Regions from separate parts of the Homo sapiens genome. Here region 2 is linked to region 1. Evidence: fine-mapped expression QTL. Tissue or cell type: nasal epithelium. Region 1 holds a variant in brackets; the other region holds the start of a gene. All regions are shown on one strand. Distances are between the middles of the regions.

Evidence for each region.
Region 2: it holds the start of PAPOLA-DT, and the variant in region 1 is fine-mapped to the expression of PAPOLA-DT in nasal epithelium (TOPMed, PIP 0.99).

Annotation. Positions count from the first base shown.
Region 1 is chr14:96,473,450-96,485,378 of GRCh38, reverse strand. AK7 (adenylate kinase 7) reads right to left here. Exons shown (of 18, transcript NM_152327.5): 15 at 6,717-6,914; 16 at 2,160-2,380. Among named protein-coding and RNA genes, the nearest start is that of PAPOLA-DT, 23 kb to the left of the region's middle. RefSeq lists a silencer at 11,141-11,341. The variant A/G (reference allele first, on the strand shown) is at 6,146.
Region 2 is chr14:96,495,136-96,507,064 of GRCh38, reverse strand. PAPOLA-DT (PAPOLA divergent transcript) reads left to right here and starts at 4,739. Exons shown (of 1, transcript NR_122121.1): 1 at 4,739-5,417. PAPOLA (poly(A) polymerase alpha) reads right to left here and starts at 4,683. Exons shown (of 22, transcript NM_032632.5): 1 at 4,465-4,683. The coding sequence starts at 4,472. RefSeq lists enhancers at 2,034-2,533, 2,534-3,035, 4,191-4,786, 4,610-4,869, 4,787-5,381 and 1 more and silencers at 4,370-4,489, 4,928-5,271.

The DNA.
Region 1 (11,929 bases):
GGCCAACTGGAGCCGTTCCTGTTTCTATTGAACTAGTTTATCAGGAGTTCTTTTTGCAAAATAATAAGAAAAAGTCACACAGCCCAAACAGGGGCAAAGAAAATACGCAACATGAGAAGAAACATAAATGCTTAACAAACAGAAAAAGCTGTAAGATTAGTGATCAGAGAAATGAATATTAAAACAATGAGAACAGTTTTTATCAGCCTGACATGTGCGAGTAAAATTGAGAAAGCAGGTTTAGAGAAGGTGTAGGGAAATAGCCACCTGTTAGATGATACATAAACTGGTTTACCATTGCTGGAGGGCAGTTTTTAAATATGTATCAAAACTCAAACCATGTCTAGTTTGACCCAGCAAACTTTAGGAATTTATGTTAAGAAGATTAATCAGGCACCCAAAGATGTGTGCATTGGGCCTGCCTCCCTCCCTCCATCCCTCCTTTCTTCCTTCCTTTCTCCCTTCTTTCCTTCCTTCTTTCCATTTGTTGAGTGCCTGTTATGTGCCAGGCACTATTCTAGGCACTGGATATATGGTAGTGAACAACACAGACATCCCTGTCCTCATGTAACTTAAGTTCTGTGCAGAGAAAAGGCAAGAAACAAGATAAATACATAAAATGTATATAATAGGTAGAGTAAGTACAAAGAGGAAAATTAAAAAGTATAAAAGGGGATGTGACAGGTTGTGGGGAGGGGTAGACATTGAATTTTACAGAGACCAGGAAATGCCTCACTAGAAAGACAACTTCTGGTAAAGATGCCAGGTGTCTGTGAGGCAATGAGTCATGCAGATGACCAAGACCACCATTGGTGCACTGTTTGAAATTGGGAAATATCAGAAGCAGCCAGGTCACAAAGGACCTTGACCACAATGACAAGTTTGGATTTTTATCAAATTGTGATAATTGAGAGCCTGTGAGGAGTTGTAAGCAGAGAATGGCCATAGTGGGTCTGCAGTTTGGAAGGATCACCTGGCAGCTGCGTAGGAACAGACTGGAGATGGAGCAGGGTGGAGTTGGGGAGGACAGTGAGAAGACACTGCGTAATTCGGATGAGAAACACTGCCCCTGATCAGAAGTAGAGAGCTTGGGACAGATTTGGGTGCCATTTTTGGTGATGGTGGTGTTTGTTTTTTGAGACAGGGTCTCACTCTGTCATCCAGGCTGGAGTGCTGTGGCATCATCATAGCTCATGGCAGCCTCAGTCTCCCAGGATCAAACAATCCTCCAGGCTTAAGCAATCCTCCCACCTTAGCCTCCCTAGTAGTTGGGGCTACAGGCATGCCACTATGCCCAGCTAATTTTTATTTAGTAGAGTCAAGGTCTTGCTATGTTGCCCAGGCTGGTCTTGAATACCTAAGCTCAAATGATTCTCCAGCCTCACCCTCCCAAAGTGCTGGGATTACAGGTATGAACCACCATGCCCAGCCTAAGAGTGCTATTTTTGGAAGCAGAATCACTTACTAGATTCAGTGATTTGGGGAATGAGGAGGGGTGGAAAGAAGCTGACCACCTGGGTAGGTTAGATGGGTAAATGGAGGAAAATCAAATCAAATCATGAGGTCAATGCATAGTAAAATGTTACACATTTACAGGAATTTGTATTACTAATACACCTGCTAATGGCTAGTTTTTGTTACTAATACTAAGCAAGCTGGGCATGGTGGCTCATGCCTATAATCCCAGCACTTTGGGAGGCAGAAGCGGGTGGATCACTTGAGATTAGGAGTTTGAGATCAGCCTGGCTGGCCAACATGGTGAAACCCCATTTCTACTAAAAACAGAAAAATGAGCTGGGCTTGGTGGTGCACACCTGTAGTCCCAGCCACTGGGGAGGCTGAGACAGGAGGATCACTTGAACCCGGGAGGCAGAGGTTGCAGTAAGCCAAGATTGCACCACTGCACTCCAGCCTGGGCGACAGAGCCAGACCCTGTCTCAAACAAAAAGAAAAAGAAAAAAAAAAAAACTAAGCAAAAGACCATGGATATCCTTTTTTAAATGGTACAAATGACAAAAAGCAAACACAAATTTGTTTAGGGTATTTCCATGACATTTCCCTAGAGCAGGATGGGAAGTGGAACTGGCCTAAATGGCTTTGCCAGGCACCGCACCCCTGTTCCACAGATACACAGACTCACAAACACACTCACCACTCACCCACTCCTCCCAGCGAGCTATCTTCTCTGCCATCTCCACGGCCTCCTGGTGCTCGCGTTCTGCTTCCTCAGCAGCCTCCCTGGCCAGCCGCTCCTCCGCAGCCTTCCGCTCCTCTTCTGCCTTTTCTTCGTCTGTTAAACCATAATTTCGAGGCTCCCCAATCTCTTTGATGAGCTGTTTGATAGCAAGTCTATTCTGAGCATCTTCAAGTTTTCCTACATCTTTAAATACCAGGAGAGAGATCAACACATACTTATATTCTAGGCCTGCCTGCAATTGGGAAAATTCTTTATTACTATAAACTTGCGATAGTCAATTATGTAAATTACCACATAGGGTTTTCTTTTCTAATTGCCAGCATAGTTCAGAATTTCTTCTCTCACGGGCAAATATCAGACCAGAGTCTGAGGGCTGTGGGTAGGAAAATTTGGACTTGGGTCTATGAGTTCTAACAATGACTTGATTTGAGTGGTTGAATGGGGGAATGGATTGCCTGAAAAGTAATGAGCTCTCCATGCCTGGAAGTATTCAAGCAAAGACTGGGACACTTCTTTCAGAGGTTTCTACAGAAGGAAGTCCTGCACTTGTGGGAGGCCAAACAGGGTGACCTTTCTGAAAATCAATGATACTGGGATACATTTTCAATTCATAAAAAAATAACCATTTCAGTGAGTCTACTTGAATAGGAAAAATATCCAGACTCCAGAATATCTGAAAAATGTTAGTATCAAGACCAAAGAGAAGAAAAAGAGAAATGGTGTATTGATAAATACTGAGATCTCCACGGTCACTGAGGTGGTAAATTCTATGCCACTCTCTTAGGGCTGCTTGGAAGGTGTCTGCAGAGAACGATGTGCAGCAGACACATTTTGGTACTAAGCCCCTTCAGACCTTCCTCTGGGTAGCTGCTTACCCCACGCCCATTCATAGTCACTGCTGTGCCCACCCCTCCCATGTTTGTTTTTTATTGTTTTGTTTTGTTTTTATAGAGACAGGGTCTCCCCATGTTGCCCAGGCTGATCTTGAACTCTTTGGCTCAAGCAGTCCTCCTGCCTTGGCCTCTCATAGTGCTGGGATTACAGGCATGAGCCGCCACCCCTCCCATGTTTGTATGACCTTGACCTAGACCAGAAGCACCACCAAGTTCTAATATGGGAAGAGGGGAGGAGCAGAGCCAGTGCACTGGTTGGTGAACAGAAGCAAACCTTTAAAAAAGCAAAAAACAGCTGGCCATGGTGGCTCACACCTGTAATCTCAGCACTTTGGGAGGCCGAGTAGGTTGAGGTCAGGAGTTCAAGACCAGCCTGGCCAACATGGAGAAACCCCATCTCCACTAAAAATACAAAAATTAGCCTGGTGTGGTGGTGCACACCTGTAGTTCCAGCTACTTGGGAGGCTTAGGCAGGAGGATCACTTGAACCCGGGAAGCAGAGGTTGCATTGAGTTGAGATTGAGCTACTGTACTCCAGCTTGGGTGACAGAGCAAGACTTTGTCTCAAAAAAAAAAAAAAAAAAGGTAAAAGTCATATCGGTAGCTCCTCATTGCCTGACCTGTGACATTTAAATGCATTTCTCACTGGGTGTGGTGGCTCACGCCTGTAATCCCAGAACTTTGGGAGGCCGAGATGGGCAGATTGCTTGAGGCCAGGAGTTTGAGACCAGCCTGGCCAACGTGGTAAAACCCTGTCTCTACCAAAAACACAAAAATTAGCTGGGCATGTGGCATACACCTGTAATCCCAGCTACTTGGGAGGCTGAGGCAGGAGAAACGCTTGAACCCAGGAGGCAGAGGTTGCAGTGAGCCAAGATTGCGCCACTGCACTTCAGCCTGGGTGACAGAGGGAGATTCTGTCTCAAAAAGAATAAATAAAATAAATAAATAAATAAATAAATGCATTTCTCCCTGATTACTCTGAGTAGTTACAACCTTGATATCACTAACTGGACACCTTTGAGAAGGTACTTGGGAATGATTCCCCCTAGCAATATTCCACTCTGACCCCAGAGTGGGGCCACTGCTGATTAGACTGGGGTGGGGCACCTCAGCCCGAACTGTGACCAGCAGAGTTGCCCTTCAGGGAATGTGGGATTGGACACAGTGAAGTCAGCTCTGGCCTTGGCTCCCAGGGTAGCATTGTAACTCTGGGGTGTGGGGTGGCCTCAGCCTACCACACAGGCCACAGAGGGGGAGAGTACACTGGCCCAAAGAAAGAGAGGACAAAGAGACACTGAGAGAGAAGCAGAGTCCAGAGCTGATGAGAGGATGTGATTCCCAGCATCTTTCCAGGGCCCCATTCCAGACATTGCAGAGGCCGGGCTGCATCCCTGGCTGTGAGACGCCCTCCCCATCTCCCATCCTTAGGATACATTTCTCCCTTCTGCTTTTATATTATCTCCCAGTTGTCAGTTGTAGATGAGGCCAAATGAGATGGGCACAGGATGAGATGGAACACAATGGCCACTCATTCATTCCTCCCTGTTACTTATTTTTTTTCTCAACATTTCTCCTGGGCTCTCCTGATCTTCCTATAAACAGTTTTTGGGACCTAACTGAAAAGATGACAATCACTATTTTTCTGAAATGTATTCTCCATTCTTTCCTAGTTCTCTAAATAATGTAAACTAATTTCCATATTAGGAGGTACAGAACCCTTAGCTTTTACATATAAAGCATGTCCAACATGCAGAAACATGTCCAGATGAGGACAAAACCCAGTCACTGCTCTGAGGGTGCAGACAAGAAGAATTTGCAGATTTATAAATTGTTTTTGTATTTCTTTTTTTTTTTTTGAGACAGAGTCTCACTGTCACCCAGGCTGGAGTGCAGTGGCATGATCTCACTTCACTGCAATCTCTGCCTCCTGGGTTCAAATGATTCTCCTGCCTCAGCCTCCTGGGTAGCTGGGATTACAGGTGCACACCACCACGCCCAGCTAATTTGTGTATTTTTAGTAGAGATGGGGTTTCACCATGTTGGCCATGCTGGTCTTGAACTCCTGACCTCAGATGATCCACCCACCTTGGTCTTCCAATGTGTAGGGATTACAGGCGTGAGGCACTGCACCCAGTCATTTTTTTATTTCATAATAGTATGTCATGTTATGCCTTAGTGTTGGTAGGAATAACAAAATGACCACTTGTTGAACTCCTTCAATGTGCCAGGCACTTCGTATCTCTCATCTCTACCGTTTGTAACAATCCTGCAAGCCTGATTATTTTCCTATTTCACAGATGAGAAAACTGAGGCCCAGCCACAATTGGAATTAGCTCTCCTGCCTCCTGCTGACATTATCCCTTAGCACTAAGCCTCCCGATACTCCAGGGCTCAAATGCTGTCCCATTGGGCAGTTGGGGGTAGAGAGCAGCCCCTGGAGGCCCAAGGTGTGGGCCTGGCCAGGAAGCTTCCACCAGGCAGAAGCTGGTTCTTTCTCACCAAGCCCATAGGAGGAATACGTGCGAAGGTCCAGAAAACCAGAAAGGTAGGTCAGGGGTTCAACAAGCCAAGGGAAGTAGCAGCAGCTGTGAAAGCTGAGAACTGGAGCCAGGAATGATAATGGTGACGATGAGGCTGACGTGATGCGGGATCATGAGTGCTTGCTGTGTGCTAAGCTCAGAGCTGTGTTTACAGGAAACAAGAAGGAACGCAGTGAAGAGCTATTTGCTCTTCTGGGTAGCTACGGGGATGGGCTGGCCAGTCAGAAGGCTGGGAAAGGGTCTGGAAGAGCACCAGTGCCCAATAATTTAACAGGGACAGAACACTGCTCCCAAGGAACCTGGGGGAATGGCCCAAGCAGCCAGCACCATACACACATTTCTTTAAAAAAAAAAAAAAAAGAGTTTGTCGGCCAGGCACGGTGGCTCACACCTATAATCCCAGTACTTTGGGAGGCCGAGGCGGGCAGATCACGAGGTCAGGAGATCGAGACCATCCTGGCTAACACAGTGAAACCCCGTCTCTACTAAAAATACAAAAAAATTAGCCGGGC[A/G]CTGTGGTGTGCACCTGTAGTCCCAGCTACTCGGGAGGCTGAGGCAGGAGAATGGCGTGAACCCGGGAGGCGGAGTTTGCAGTGAGCCGAGATGGTGCCACTGCACTCCAGCCTGGGCAATAGAGCAAGACTCCATCTCAAAAAAAAAGAAAAAAAAATTAATCAGGCCTGGTGGCATGTGCCTGTAGTTCCAGCTACTTGGGAGGCTGAGGCAGGAGAATTGCTTGAACCCGGGAAGCAGAGGTTGCAGTGAGCCAAGATTGCACCACTGCACTCCAGCTTGGGCAACTGAGCGAGACTCCATCCCCCCACAAAAAAAAAAAAAAGGATTTGTCATTTGACTTCACAATATATCCATAAATTCTCATACGATAATAACACCCTCCCACCACCAAATCCCCACATAGAATGACTCCCCAGGAGGAGTGCCCTGTGTATTTCATGGCTTCCTGTGCCCCAACCCATGATTACACTCCCCACCCTCCCCCCAGCCCCACAATTACAGCTAGACCTGCACCAAGCTTTGCTGGGGGTCCTGGACATTCACATTATCCTTGAATTCATTTCATACCAATATGTATCGGGTGAATTTCAAGTTCATCAAAATAGTTGAAGACAGTCTCATCGTCGATATTGATGTCCCGGTAGTTGCTCAGAGCCCGGAGGAATCGGTCTTGGCTGTAGTGGGTCCCCGCCACGATGCTCTCAGGAAGGTTTATCACACGCTCCTTCAGAAACTCATCCGAAGCATCCAGTGCACAAACGAATTCTGGGGAGAAGGACAGACTCCAGAGTTGGCACAATACAGCGCAGCTAACTAGCAGGGTGCTGGAGAACGCATGGCCCCCTGGTTACCAGCCAAGACCTCCTGTTGCCACAAATAGCCTGTCCAATTGGCTTTGCTGCCTCTCATGGAGGATAAATAGATGAAAATCACCCCATTTCCAGAGACCACCCTATGAGGCCCAATTAGTATTTTGTGCAATCTATTATTTTCCCTTTCTTCCCCCCTCCCTCTCTTCCTTCCTTCCTCCCTCCCTTCCCCCGCCCTCCCTCTGTCCTTCCTTCCTTCCTTCCTCCCTTTCTAACTAATAAAAGCAGCAGAAATCATAAGTAGCAAATCTCAGATAACCCTGTGATATCAGCTTCCTAGTTAATTTTCACATTGTCTCTTTTCTCTTTTTTAAAAAATACATACTTATATGTATGTATATTTATTTTAGAGAGATACAAGGTCTTACTATGTGCGGGCTGATCTCAAATTCTTGCCTTAAGCAATCCTCCCGCTTTGGCCTCCCAAAGTGCTGGCAGGGATAAGCCACGGCTCCTGGCCTCACGCTGCCTCCTATCCAGCACAATTATCACAGGCTTCCAAAGAGAGCTATGGCTACAAGCAAAATGCTTTGATGGCCAGTTTGCCAAATTAATAAAATGGGAACTCCCCTTGGAATTTTCATGGATCCAGCTCTTTCATCAATGCCATTGGCTATGAAACACTTACGTACAACATGTTATGGTCAGCACTTATCAAATTCAACACACAGATCATGTTAATAATGATGACCATTTTACCCATCTGTGATTTTCTTTTAAACTGTGAAAGCAGCTGTTCCTCCAGCTTCTAGTACAAATTCAATAGATAATTGTTGAGTGAATGAGAGATTTAAGTGTGGATCAGTGAAATAAACTTTCCAAGGTGAGTTGTGATTCTTAGATGTTCTCAACTACAGGAGCAGGGTATACTGGTGCCCAGATCAGTGTCTGGGTGCATCACAAATAGCTTGCTATCTATTAGAGCTCAACAGAACTTGGGAATGATTTGATTTTTGTTCTAAAATTGTATTGGCTTATAACATCATAATGCCATTCTCGTTTACTTGCATTCTAATAAGCTTCCTTGAGTGGGTGAAAAAGGTAAGTGTAATGGGGAAAGCCCACAGGAGGTGTGTCCCCGAGGCATGTGGACATGTGTGAACATCATCTGCTGCAGATGTTAACTGTGAAAACAAAGGCTGAGACAGCGTGTGGAATAAGATCCTATAAATTCATAATAGTTTGATACTACCTCCATTCTGCATACAAGAGGTGTTTTCGCAAGTAAGTTGTTCCTATTTTTTGCTCATCTTTTACCATTTGATTGTCATGATTTTCATGAGTGGCTGCCTTTTGAAAAGGAAGGTAGACATATGAAGCCTCAAATGCTGGTACGGTACTGAAATCAAAAGGATGTCAACAGATTCGCTGAAAATTGAATCCATTTAAGCTCTATGATGTCGGACATCTATATGAAAACTTATTTTCTTTTTAGATTTTTCCCTAACATGATACTCATTTGTTAGAAAATGTATGAACTATGTTAATAATCTATGAATTTCAAAAATATATTCTATCTTTCTTCCAGGCTGATCAGGAGGTGGAAGATTCCAGTTAATCAAATAATGAGTAACATCCTTGGCTTTCCAATTTTCAAAGATTTTTAATATGATAAAATATACTTCTCACTAGATGATTTTTAAAAAAATGTTCATTCTCTTTATGACTCAGAGAACTTCAAGATTCTGCAGTATCTCAAGACAGTTATTCAGAACATCTATTGTCCTTGCACTGGCTAACTGTGGATAGCGAGTAATAGATTTCTGCTTGGTAAGACCGTAGATAACAAGGAGGTCACTGTATTTGGCTATCTGGAATCACATGAAAAATCTATGGTTTTTTTTTTTTTTTTTTTGAGACAAAGTCTCGCTCTTGTCCCCCAGGCTGGAGTGCGGTGGCGCGATCTTGGCTCACTGCAACCTCTGCCTCCCGGGTTCAGGTGATTCTCCTGCCTCAGCCTCCCAAGTAGCTGGGATTATAGGCGTGCACCACCGTGCCTGGCTAATTTTATATTTTTAGTAGAGATGGGGTTTCACCATGTTGGCCAGACTGGTCTTGAACTCCTGACCTCAGGTGATCTGCCCACCTCGGCCTCCCAAATTGCTGGGATTACAGGTGTGAGCCACTGCGCTGGGCTGAAAAAGCTATGTTTTAACAAATTTCCAAATATTAATCAGGTAGGTACAACTTTAAACTTATCTCCTTCAACCAAGAGGTCTTCAAAGAATCAAACTGGACATAGGCTAACAGCAGTGGTAAAATGCAATGGTTGCTCAATGGGAGAGAATACCATCTAGAACTGTATTACCATAGATTGGAATGTGTTTCTTTTATTTTCTGTATCTTATGCTTTGATTTCTTTTTTTTTTTCTTTTTTTTTTTAAGAGACAGGGTCTCACTGTCACCCAGGCTGAAGTGCCGTGGCATGATCAAGGCTCACCACCGCCTTGACCTCCTGGGCTCAAGAGATCCTCCCACTTCAGCCTCCTGAGTAGCTGGGACCACAGGCACATGCCACCACACCCAGCTAATTAAGAATGTTTTTGTGTGTGTGGAGATGGGGGTCTTGCTATATTGCCCATGCTGGTCTCCAACTCCTGGACTCAAGCAATCCTCCTGCCTTAGCCTCCCCAAGTGCTGGAATTGCAGGCGTGAGCCACCACACCTGGTCTGTTTTGACATCTTCAGGGGGGCCTTACAGATCTGGGGAGAGACTGCTGTCCTTCCCAGGCCTAGCCAATACCTAAAGATAGTAACAACTTGCTTGGGAATGCCCCTCCTATGCAAGCCACTCAATCCATTTATCTAATCTCACACAGCAAGCCAGTATTTCCCTTGCCCTAAATCATCCCAGGACCAGGCCCCAGGCAACTAGAGACCACCCGTAAACTCAAACTAGCCAGTCCCGAACGGTTCACTGTGGCCTGTCTTGGCTTTCCCAAAGAAACCCCAACAACGGCATTGATCTAGACCTTTCCCCTTGTTCTTGCTTCTGCCGCCTGACCAAACCTGGCATTCCCCATGTGCCCCCATCTCTAGGGAATCCTAAGTGTAAATTATTTCAATGGCATTGACCTCTCTATGTCACCATTCAGTTCCCTCCCTCAATTAAAATCCTACAAGTACGAATGAAACAATGCCCTACTTTCTTTCAGAGAAATAGAAAATAAAGACAATTTCTGAAAAGTTTGCTAACAACAGATTAACGTTCCAAATAGATTACGTCTTAGACGTGTTTGCACTGTGTCCAACAAAGAATGGAAAGTCCAGTGGCCTACGTTTAAGAGTCCTTGGTCACTTGACCTCTGTGCTTCCATTTCCTTATCTCACAGGCAGGTTTCATTAATTGTTTTGGAGGCAGTGGAGTGAGAAGACCTGAGTTTTAATTTAATCCCCCTACCATTTACTAGTGAGTGGACTTGCATAAATCTCTAGGCTTTAGCTTCTGGATTGGGTAAACATGGGTGTAATTCCTGCCTTGCAGGATTGTGGAAAGGTTCAATGAGTGCCTGGCACATGACAAATTGTGCACGACCAATTGCCAGTTGAACTGAAATGTATCCAGCTGCCTGGATGTTATGGGTGTTATGATTTAGCACAGAGTTTGCAATGAGTGAATATTGCCTAGAAGTGATAAACAAAATGCACTGGACACACCTACCTAGAATTTAATAATCAACAATAAAGTAGATGAACAAACTTTACTTTTTATTTTATTTTTTTAATTAATTTTTTTGAGACCGGTTCTTGCTCTGTTGCCCAGGCTGGAGTGCAGTGGTGTAATCAGGGCACCTGCAGCCTTGACTTCCCACACTCAAGTGATTCTCCTACCTCAGCCTTCCAAGTAGCTGGGACTACAGGTGCATGCCACCACCCCCAGCTAATTTTTTTGATTTTTTTTTTTTTTTTTTTTTAGTAGATATGAGGTCTCACTATGTTGCCCAGGCTGGTCTCTAACTCCTGAGCTCAAGAGATCCTCCCACCTTGACCTTCCAAAGTGCTGGCATTACAGGCACTGTGTCTGGCCAATCAACTTAGCCCACAGGCAAACAATAAATATCCATCCCCAAGGATGACTGCTATCTGGTGGTCTCAGTCCTTCCAGAAGCTTCTCTGCAAACTGTGCTGGACCAAGAGAAGAAAACAGCCACAAGCTGCCTTCCTCGGGGACTTGATACCAGTGAGCAGGCAGGCCCTTTTCAGTTACAGCCTTGTCCTAAGTTGCTGAAAATAGCTTTTCTTCTAGCGATCATATGACCCAAAATGATTCCCTATGAATATCTACCTCAAGCAAACTGACTAAAAACAACAACACTTTTTAACGTTTACAGGAAGGTCACAAGAAATGCCTGCTCAGTACTAAGTAAATCCTGTTGTGTACGATAAATTGCTTATGCTTTGCTTTCAAGAGTACTTTGTGAAATCCCTGTGTAAATATGTGATAGAATAAAACCACTGTGGAGTTAAGAGTGAACTGAAAAGCTTTTGACCTGTGCAATCTCAAGTCAGAAGCTGAATGTCTTTTGGAAGAGATGAGGGCACGGTTAGCACCAAAACCAGGGCAGGGAAGGAGGCTACATGACTCACGAAGTCAAGCCATCAGCAGATTTGCTACCTTTTGCTTTGTTACAGGAGAGAGCAGTGGAAGACAACGTTCCCACAGGGATTTCTATTCATTTCAGCAATTTAATATTCCTCATGTTTATCCGTTGGTGCATTCTCTAGTTTGCAAGTTTATGCTTGAGAATGTCTTTTAATATTTTTCCTAAAAAAAAAAATCCTACTTTATTAAACTCAAAAAGATTCTTTTGGCACAAAAGGGATATTGGGCTACTCTAGGCACACTGCCTATGGTGTAGCCCTGCTCCTTAAGAAGTAGTTAAAAAAAAAAAAAAAGAGCCTGGGCAAGGT
Region 2 (11,929 bases), 22 kb before region 1:
ACCCAGGCTGGTCTTGAACTTGTAAGCTCAAATAATCCTCCCACCTCGGCCTCCCATAGTGCTGGGAGCAACATTATAACTGGAAAAGAGGAGTATTTAGTATTTTCAATTAATATGAGTAGTCTTCTTTGATACTACACCAGAACTCCACAAGTGGCAGTTTTGCAAAGATTAGTTACAATATGAAAGTTAAAACCCTATTAATAAGCCCTTGGTACTCTGTTGCATTAAAATCTGGTTTACCTTGCACTCTGAATGTACCCTTGAATGCACATATGATTTTATTACATCACAAATGGTCATTTGGAAAATATGGGTTCACTGAATTATACAGGTCTACCAAATATTAAAAAACATTCTTTTTTTAAGCACACATTATACAGCATTAAAACTATATGCATTAATATTACCACCAATGTCAGCAGAAACATCTTTTAAGTATTGGGAAAAACCGTCAAGCTCATGATGGAAAAGCAAGCTTTCTAAAATTCTATATTTTGCTTGAAAGCTCCAATTTTTCACTGGCCAGGAATAGTCAGTTGTTTACCTTGGAGTGACAGACTTGCTTTATTCTCATTTAAGTCTCCTAAATACTCAAATATGAATATCCACAGTTCATCACTTGTTCTTTCAGATAAAAATGGAGCTCCATGAGAACACCAGTTTAGCTCACAAATCAACATACAAGTGCTCCTCAAAACCACCATTCTACTCCCCAGTATACAGCTTCACAAGTACTTTCCGTGGTCACAGTACATTAAATAAACAAAGTGTCAAGATTTAATAAAATTAACCTCCTTTTACTGTTTCATCAAAAGCTTTTTAAACTATGAGTGTGCAGTCTTCAAGAAATAAAATGACAGCCGGGCGCCGTGGCTCATGCCTGTAATCCCAGCACTTTGGGAGGCCGAGGTGGGGGGGGATCACGAGGTCAGGAAATCGAGACCATCCTGGCCAACATGGTGAAACCTCGTCTCTACTAAAAATACAAAAATTAGCTGAGCGTGGTGGCGTACACCTGTAGTCCCAGATACTTGGAAGGCTGAGGCAGGAGAATCGCTTGAACCCGGGAGGTGGAGGTTGCAGTGAGCCGAGATCGCTCCACTGCATTCCAGCCCGGCGACAGAGCAAGACTCCGTCAAGAACGGAAGGAAGCAAGGAAGGAAGGAATCAAGCAAGGAAGGAAGGAAGGAAATGACTATATACAATACCGGTTCTCTGCCTTGATTGTTCCTATGATGGATACAGCATTTTCCACCACTGCTTTTGCACCGTTAAGTACAAATGTTGAAAGACAAAACATCTCAATAACATGAAAATAGTTTGAACATTATGTACCCTCTGAAAGATCTCAGTGGTCCCCCTCCCCAAGCATCCACAGATCCCGCTCTGGGAAGCACAGACCATCCACCAGCAGGTACCAGTTCTGCTTGTTATGGCGATGTAAAACTACTACAATTCCCTCTTTTTTGTGCAGCCCCCGAAAACATTTTTGCTATTGTCTCGCCTAAACCTTGCAGTAACTCTTTTTGGTAACTTTGACAACATTCTATGCATGTGGCATAAATGCTACTGATACTGGTTACTCTCCTTCACACCTTTTTATCATATGTGTGATACTCAGAACTGAGCTGATGCCAAAAATATCTGACCAACACAGAGTAGGGCAGAAATACATCTAGTTTCCATAAGGGCATCACACTTTTCGTTAATGCCGTGGTTCTCAACCAGATTTTGCACCCCAGGGCACATCTGGTAATATCTGGAGACATTTTTGATTGTCATTACTGGGGAAATGGAGGGGTGGAGCTCCCGGAATCCAGTAGGTGGAAGCTAAGGCTGCTGTTAAACTACAATACACAGGACAGGCACCTGCAAGGAATGAATCTGGCATAAATGTCAATAATGACTAGGTGAGAAACTGTTTAATGGATCCAAAGACTATCAAAACTTTCAGAAGCTTCACCACCATGACTCTTAAATCAGACTATAATCTTTCCAAAAGTATGTTTGTAGCTACATATGAAATTTAGACAAAATATGGACACTTGATCAAAATGTTCTGTAATATCCTAAATTTCGATAATTTTGATTTAAATTCATTCCGACAACTCACCTAGGGTCCATGCCCCAATGCCACTCACCCATCCAAATTTAACATTAGGACAGGTATACCAAAAATGAAAGCCAAACACAATATAGCCGGGAAATCACAATCCAACACATCAAAAAAACAACATTTATGACAGTGTGACAGCAGTACATGAAAAACAAAGCAACTTAATGAGGAAGAAGCCCTATTTTTCTTTAACTAGGCATTCTTTGGTCTCTCTATTGTTTACTACAGTAATTATCGTATACTTACTTTTTGAGTCTCGCTCTGTCACCCAGGCTGGAACGCAGTGGCATGATCAAGGCTCACTGCAGCCTCAGCCTCCTGGGCTCAAGCAGTCCTCCCACCTCAACCTCCCAAGTAGCTGGGATTACAGGCATGAGCCACCACGCCCAGCTAACTTGTGTTTTTTGTTGAGATGAAGTTTCGCCATGTTGCCCAGGCTGATCTCAAACTCCTGGCCTCAAGCGATTTACCTGCCTGGGCCTCCCAAAGTGCTGGGATTACAGGCGTGAACCACCGCGCCTGGCCCCGTCTTCCATTTTACACACTTGAACTAACTCGCGAAGAATTTGAAATACCTAAGGTCTTTCACAGAAATGTATACCTTCCCTCTTCAAAGAATGTTGGGGGAAAGTAGGTATAAAAGTACTTTTAATTCCTAGAAATAAGACACAAATTACTTAATGTTATTTCTTCATTGAAGCCTTTTAAGGTTTACATCTATCATTTTTAATGCTGGTATGATTATCAGAAAAAGAAGTCCCTTTTCAAAGACAGCAAAATGTTAACTTAATAACGCAGTCATCACGACATCACTGCAAACATTTATCTCCTATTGAACTGAGAAACACCACAACAATCTTGCTTAGACTCAGTTCTCCTAGGGTCTCTTATTCTATGAAAGGGAAAAATCAATAAACAGAAACCATGCAGATTCCAAGATTTTAGACCTGTATAGTTAGTTAAGTCTAACAAACGTTTTCATCACAGAAGTAATGTGATAGACTTCTTAATAACCTAAGGGGGTGGGTGGGAGCCATGGAAAATCCTTTTAAAATACATAAATTGCGATAGAAGTCATTAAGGTCTGTGCCAAAGTTAGAGTCTCACCTGTAAAGAAACACATTCACACACATATATAATTGTAAAACTACAATCGGTGATTATGTGCTAAAGAAATTATCCTTACTTACAAAAAAAAAATAGACCTGAGTTACTACATTCGATGTCTAGAAACCACAAAAATCTTTATCCTGAATTTAACCAAAACTTTGAGTGTCAATTACATGTTGCGTTTTGAGGCTACTAAGATGAAGAAAACTCGGTCCCTGGTCTCAAAGAGGCACTCTTACGCTTCAATATTCAAAAATGGAAGAAATGCAGTCTCACTATTTAGGCCTCTACAATGCTGTATATTTGCAGGAAAAAAAAAATCCGTAATCTACTGGCAATGAGCTGCCAAATTATATCTCATTATCAGAAAGGGGGAGGGGAGAAAAAAACTTTTTAAAAACCCACCAAGAAAAGAAAAAGGCGCAGTGGCATTAGAAAGCATAAAGAGACTAGCTTCAAGCCTTACAACCAGGAAAAAAAAAGTATCACCAGAGATAGAGAAAGAAGGAAACAGAATGAAACCTGGTTACCCCATCAAAACAAAACAGGGAAAGCAATACATAAGTCGTTTTGGAGGAGGGCACCCTGTGAAGTGCCCCCTTCTCCGACCGCCTGTGAATGCTAGGGAGGCGGAGGTGGAGGCAGGCGGACTCAACGCTCAAAGCTGGGCTTTTAACTCGTGCTCCTACATTCAGACAAGGTCAGTGGAAAGGGGCTAACTCCGGCGCACAAGACAGGCATCTGGAAATGGGAGGAAGAGAGTGAGCAAACTGAGACAGACCAGGAACAGAAAAGCAACATCGAATGGGCCCGAGGGGCGCCGAGAGCGAGCCCGAACCCCAAGTGCTGATCCCGCGTGCAGCAGGGTCGTGGTTCCCCACCACCAGGCAATGTTTTGTTTTCGGGTTGTTTTGATTTTCTTTGTGGACGGGGCGGAGAAGCTGGAGTGGCCGGGCGAGTTAGAGGTTCCGCCAGCAATTCCGGAAGGGGAAGGCCCCCGGCCCGACGGCAGCTGACCCAGCCAGGAAGGGTCGGGGGACGCGGGAACCCAGCACACGGGGGGAAGTGCGGCGGCGAGCGAGCGAGGAAACAGGAAGGTCCCCAGTCCTGCCTGCCTCCTACCAGCGGGGAGGGTCGGGCTCGCGTGCCACCCTCTCCGCCTACCTCTTCCCCTTCCCGGACGCCCCCCAAGGCCCAGCCGGCGAGCGAAAGAAAACAGAATACAAATTACTTACAACGGCATCGTCTCCGGCGCCGGCACCGCCCAGTCACTTCCCCCCCGCAACCGCCGCCGCTGCCGCCCTGGGCATGATCCACTGAGGCGGGAGGGAGGGGGGGGCCTGCCTCAGCCCTGGGTCCAACCCCTCTCCCGCACCGCTCCCGCCGCTTTAAGCGCTTCTCCTCCTTCCCCTTCGTCCTAACATGGCGCCCGAGCGCTACCACAGCAACGTTCTAGAACTGCTGACGCCACCACGCACGCCGTGCGTGCGCCTGCGCACCAGCGCCGTCCGCCGCGAAGCCTCACGGGAAGCGGAGTTCCTAAGGCCGCCTGCGGCCCGGCAATTACCCCCTGGGTCCTCTCACACTTAGCAGTGGGTGTCAGATGGTGGAAGGGAACGCTCAGGGAGGCCCCGGGCGGTGAGTTGTCCCTCGGGCGGGGACGCCCTCGTGGGCAGTGCGGCGTGGACGGCGCAAGGAAGAACCCGGAGAGATCCCAAGCCACGAGGCACCGCTTCCGGCGCATTGTGAGGTCCCACCTTTCCCGCCGCCTGAGGTCGCGGCGGCTGCTCTTTCCCGGAGCAGCGTCCCTGGAGGCGCTGCCAGGGGGTGAGGCACCCACGCGTGCACCGTATGTACCCCCCAGCGCGGCGCTTAGAACGACTCGCATGAGTCGCTGCCTTGGGTTGGAACCGGTTACTCCGCCGCTTCGTACTGGACTGCAAAGTAACAAGTACTTCGCCGGGCAGCGGTGCCGACCCCGTGTGCTACGGCGAGAGGTGCTTAGCCTAGAGCCGACGAAAACATGTCCCCAGGACTCCCTTTCCCTCCCAGACTGCGTCCCACCAGATGGAGCTTTCCGTCTGTTTTAACCACCAGTGTATTCCTGATGCCTGACCCAGGCGCTGAAATATTTGTTGAACGAATAAATGTGTAGGTTAGGACTGACGACAGTCCGCGAATTCTGGAACACGGGCTGATTTTACTTTTGAACAAATGATGCACTGGAACTTCCTGACAGAGCTGACCTTTTATAGGAACATCAATGGCAGTCACCGCTGGCATTTTAGCAAAGGTTGTCTTGGTCATAATTTCCCCTTGACTGTGTTTCCAGCCCTTAATCTATATCGGGTGGGACCTGGAAGTCTACCTTCTCGCCACCCCTCGGCAAAAGTTTGAGAAAGTGTTTGAGGCAGAGCCTCCTCTCTCATATGCCCTCCATCTGCGAATTAGAACGAATTATAAGTTCTACGGTGTCACATAGGGGGTTAGCGGAGAGGAAGAGGGAAAGAATCAAATACAGGACGCTGCCTTAACCAAAGTTCTAAACTCTAAATGTAATAATGTGCATTTGTGAGTCCTCAGGAAGTTTCACAAAGGCTTTCCCTTTTTTCACAGAATGTCTAGTAGGACTGGTGACTCCGAATGGGAAAAACACAGGACCTAGACCTGCCCTGTCCATTAGTGTAGCCCCTTGGCCACTTAGGGCCACTGAGCACTTGAAATGAGGCTAGTTCGTTTAGGAGGCACTGGAAGTGCAAAATACGCACGGGTGTCAGTTCGACGAATGTGAAATACCTCACTGATCACTTTTTATATTGATTGCACGTTGAAATATTTTGGATATATTGCAGTAAAGAAAATGTAAGCCGGGCACGGTGTCTCACACCTGTGATCCAGCACTTTAGGAGGCTGAGGTGGGAGGATCGCTTGGGCAGGAGTTAGAGACCAGCCTGGGCAATATAGGGAAACCCCCGTCTATACAAAAAGTTAAAAAAAAAAAAAAAAAAAGAAAAAAGAAAAAAAAATTAGCTGGGCATGGTAGTTCCTGCCTGTGGTCCCAGTTACTCCGGAGACTGAGGTAGGAGGATCCCTGGAGTGGGAGGTGGAGGCTGCCGTGAGTCGTCATCTCACTACTGCACTCCAGCCTGCGTTGACAGAACGAGATCCTGTCTCAAAAAAAAAAAAAAGAAAATATACTATTAAAATTAATTTTACCTGTTTTTTTAAATGTGACCACTAGAAAATTTTAAGTTATATATGTGGCCTTCATTTCCATTAAATAGTGCTGATCTGCAAACAGACTTATATTTGATTGTCATTTCTTCCATTTAGTCTCTTTTCCTCTTGTCATCAAGGTGGCTTTGGCTGGAGACCCAGTAGCATAGTTGTCCCTAAAAGACTGAAAATCTGAGATCCAGATAATTCAATAATGTATTAAGGCTATGGACTTCAAAGCAGCTTGTAAAGATATGCCCTGGGGCCTGGCACAGTGGCTCACTCACACCTGTAATCCCAGCACTTTGGGAGGCAGAGGATTCCTTGAGCTCGGGAGTTCTAGGCCACCCTGGGCAACGTGGCAAGTCGTTGTCTCTACTAAAAAAAAAAATCAAAAAAATTAGCTGGCCTTGGTGGCACACACCTGTAGTCCCAGCTACTTGGGAGGCTGAGGTTGGGAGGATCACCTGAGGCAAGGAAGTTGAGACTGCAGTGAGCCCTGATCATGCCATTGCACTCTAGCTTGGCAACAGAGCAAGACATTGTTCAAAAAAAAAAAAAAAAAATGCACTAACGATGTACTTTATGAATAAAAGAATGGGGACTTTTTCAGCTTATGTTGTCCTCTGCCAGGCATCTCAGAAGGCAGTGAAGAGAGGGACGCTAAACATCCATGCTTTTGGTCTATAATTGCTTCAAACTATTTTTGTTTCAGCCTTCCATAGAATGAGGCAGCTAGATAGCACAGCTGATGAATATTTAGTACCTAGAATGTGCTAGATATCACGCTACTTGCCTAAGGCATTTAAAAGGAACAATATTGAGGATTGAGGATGGAGTCAAGGTAGACTTCATGTAAGAGGTCACTTCAGACACGTCCTGATATGTTAGGGTTTGGTAAGTGGACAGAAGGAGTAGAAGGGCATCTCAGGTAAAGAGAACAATTTTTAAAAATAAAATGAGGCCGGGCGCAGTGGCTCACGCCTGTAATCCCAACACTTTGGGAGGCTGAGGTTGGAAGATCACTTGAGGTCAGGAGTTGGAGATCAGCCTGGCAAACATGTTGAAACCCCATCTCTACTAAAAATACAAAAATTAGTCGGGCATAGTGGTGGGCGCCTGTAATCCCAGCTACTCAAAAGCTGAGGCAGGAGAATCGCTTGAACCCAGGAGGCACATGTTGCAGTGGACCAAGATTGTGCCATTGCACTCCAGCCCGGGCAACAAGACCAAAACTCTGCCTCAGAAATAAATAAATAAATAAATAAAAATTAAAACGTGCAAATAATTTATTTGGAGAAAGGGAAACTTTTGAAGTGACTAAACCACAAAATATTTAGTGAGGAGTGGTGAAAATAAAGCTGCAAAGTTAAGTGAGAGGCAGAAGATAAGGGGCATAGTGGTGCACACCTGTGTCCTCTATTCTGAAGGCTGCGGTGGGAGAATCACCTGAGCCCAGGAAGTCAAGGCTGTAGTGAGCCAAGATCATGCCACTGCGCTCCAGCCTGGGTGACAGAATGAGACCATGTCTCAAAAATAAAGGAAGTAGGGGGAGATGGGAGATCATATAATGACTCCATAAACAGACAAAGGAATTATAGATGGTGATAAGCGGCATTAATAAACCAGGCATTAGAGTTGTGGTGGAGGCCAACTTCAGATAGAGAAGGCTTTTCAGAGGAACTGACCTTTGAGCTGAGACCTGAAGTTAATTCTGAGCGATTTTGAATTTTTGTTTTTGTGAATGGAGGAGCCATTGAAAGTTTTAAAACAGGAGTTAGGTTACATTTATATTTTTGGAAAGATGACTGAAAGTGTAAGGAATGAATTTGAACTAGGAGAGGTTTTGAAGCTGGAAGATGGGTGAGGCGGCTCTTGCAATCCTTCAGATGAGAAATGAAGTTTGAAATAAGGAAGAGAAAGCCGGGCGCGGTGGCTCAAGCCTGTAATCCCAGCACTTTGGGAGGCCGAGGCGGGTGGATCACGAGGTCAGGAGACTGAGACCATCCTGGCTAATCCGGTGAAACCTCGTCTCTACTAAAAATACAAAAAAATTAGTCGGGCGTGGTGGCGGGCGCCTATAATCCCAGCTACTCATGAGGCTGAGGTAGGAGAATGGCGTGAACCCGGGAGGCGGAGCTTGCAGTGAGCTGAGATCGCGCCACTGCACTCCAGCCTGGGCGACAGAGCCAGACTCCGTCTCAAAAAAAAAAAAAAAAAAAAAGAAGAAGAAATAAGGAAGAGAAGAAGGGAGCAATCTGAGAAAGATTTAGAAGGCATAGTTAATTCTGGATGGGAGAGGTGATGGAGAGGAAGAAGACCAAAATGATTTCGGAGGTTCTGAGTGGGGGCGGGTGACAGTGATTGGAGCTACTGATAAATGAAATAGGAAATAGAGGAGGATAACTGGGTGAGTGGATGAGATCGGGAGAGTAGTAGCTATGTGTTGATTTTGAACTGCCTGTGGGACATTCAGAAATGTCTATGAGGCAGTTGAAAATATGCTTCCGGAGCTAAGAAGAGAAATTTGGGCTGGAAACATTATAAACTCTGAAAACAAGAATCATGGCTTGGAATCATGTTTTGGCTCTGGAAGGACCTTATATACACCCAGCGACTACTCCAACTCAAATTTCATGAATGAGTAATAATCTAGATGCTCACAGATCATATTTAGGACCCAGTTAAGAGTAAAACTCTAGCCAAGGAAAGTGAAGAGTAAGAGAAGACCAATTAATAGTATATTGGTAACAGTCTACTGTTACCCTTGCCTTGCTTGTCCTGAGTCCTGCCCACACCTCCCTCCAGCTGCTGCTGGTCTCCGTGACTATTGCCCCATCACCTAGTGCCTGTTTTCTTGTGGCTGCGGAGAAGGGGGAAGATGTGTTCTACTGGAATTTTAAGTATAGTAGTCTCTCTGTACCCCCAGGGGATACCTTCAGAGAGTCCCAGCACATGCCTGAAACTGAGGGTAGTGCCAAACCCTATATTTACTATGTTTTTTTCCTACGCATATGTACCTATGATAAAGTTTAATTTATAAATTAGGCACAGTGAGAGGTAAACAGCAACAATAATAAAATAGAACAATTACAACAATATGCCAGCATGACTACTCTTGCACTTTGGAGCCATTATTAAGTAAAATAAGAGTGACTTGAAAACAGGCACTGTAATATTTGACAGTTGATCCGATCACGGAGAGGGCTGCTGAGTGACTAACTGGTGGGCAGTGTATACAGTGTGGAAACACCAGACGAAGGGCTGATTCATGTCCACCTGAGCAAGAAGGTGCAAGATTTTATGACACTACTCAGAATGGTATGGTATTTTAAACTTATGAGTTGTTTATTTCTAACATTTTTCATTTACTATTTTCAGACCACGGTTGACCACAGGTAATCAAAACAGGAAAGAGAAACCCCAGATAACGGGGGACTACATTTTCCACAGAACAGTGTCATAAATAGTGGAAAGAATTTCAAAACTGGTTCCCAGAAGCCCACAGTGTATTCAAACAAACAAACAAAAAATGCTTGAAAATGTTTTTGAGAACAGAAGCTCTTCATATATTGGGAACTACATGGATTGTATTTTGCTGTCATTTAGGAGTAGTCGTAGGAGATACTGTGTGACACAGAGATTTTTATCCCAGTAGTGAACTCTGATGATCCACTGGGCCAATACTTTTCAAAAAATCAAAGATCAGACTTATTAATTACTAAAATAAAAATAATAATACAAGCATTTTTATCCAATGAGTGCTATACTCTTGAGCAGTCCTTTCATTAAATTCATTTCCCCTTTTTTTAATATATCTATTTATTTTTTGAGACAAAGTCTTACATTCTGTCACCCAGGCTGGAGTGCAGTGCTGTGATTACAGCTCATTGTAGCCTCCCTCTCCCAGGCTCAACTGATCCTCCGGCCCCAGCCTCCCAAGTAGCTGGAACTACAGGTGCATGCCACCACGCCCAGCTAATTTTTTTTTTATTATTTTTAATGCAGAGGAGGTCCCAGCTACATCACCCGGGCTGGTCTGGAATCCCTGGCCTCAGGCGATTCTCCTGCCTCGTCCTCCCAAAGTGCTGGAATTACAGGAATGAGCCACCACATCCAGCCATTTTATTATTTTGACTTTCACATTTAATTCTATGCTCCACTTCAAAATAGTTTCATGTGCAGTATGAGGTAGAGGTCAAGGCTTGGCTTTGTTTTTAATATGTGGATCTCTAGTTGATGGCCATGCACCATTTATTTAAAAGATCATACTTTCTTATCGAATTGCCATGGCACCTTTGCTCTAAGTCAGGTGACTATAAATGTGTGGGTCCATTTCTAGGTTCCTGATTCTGCTCCATTGATCTATGTGTCTGTTCTAATCACTGTAGCTTTGTAATAAGTCTTGATATCTGGAGAGTGTAAGTCCTCTAGGTTTGTTCTTCAAAATTGTTTTGATTATTCTAGGTCCTTTGCATTGCCATATACATTTTAGAACCAGATTACTGGTTTTCTTTTCTTTTCTTCTTCTTTTTTTTTTTTTTTTTTTTTTTTTTTTGAGACGGAGTTTCGCTCTTGTTGCCCAGGCTGGAGTGCAATGGCGCAATCTCGGCTCACCACAACTTCCACCTCCCGGGTTCAAGCGATTCTCCTGCCTCAGCCTCCCGAGTAGCTGGGATTACAGGCATGCGTCACCACACCCGGTTAATTTTGTATTTTTAGCAGAGACAGGGTTTTTCCATGTTGGTCAGGCGGGTCTTGAGTTCCTGACCTCAGGTGATCCGCCCGCCTCAGCCTCCCAAAGTGCTGGGATTACAGGCATGAGCCACCGCACCTGGCCCAGATTACTGATTTTCATCCCCCCAAAAAATAAAGTGAGAAGGAAGCAAGCAAAGATGGAAGGAAAGAGGGAAGGAAGGAAGGAAGGAAGGAAGGAGTAGGGAGGGAGGGAGGGAGTGAACGAAAGAGAGGGAAAAAGATACTGGGATTCTGATAGGAGTTACATTGATTCTATAGATCATTTTGGGGAAGAATTGAAGTATTAACAATATTGGGCTTTATAAAGTATTAATATGGTCTGTCCCTTCATTTCTCCACTTATTTCATGTTTAATTACTATCAGTAATGTTTTGTAATTTTCAGTAGAGGTCTTACACATCTTCCTTAGGTTACCCCTACCTATTTTATTGTAAATGATACCAACTTGCTATGATTTGAATATTTGTCCCCTCCGAAATTCATATTTAAATTTAATCCCCAATGTGGCAATGTAGAGAGATGGGACCCTTAAGAGATGTTTGGGTGATGTGGGCCCTGTCCTCTTGCATGCATTAACCCATTCATAGATTAATGCAATAATTGGTTAATGGATTAATGGATGGTAGTGTTGGAAGGATGAGAAGCACAGAGACTCCAGATACGTTTTGAAAGTTGAGCCAATATAATACATTGATGTATTGGATGAGGGGTAAGAGAAAAGGAAAA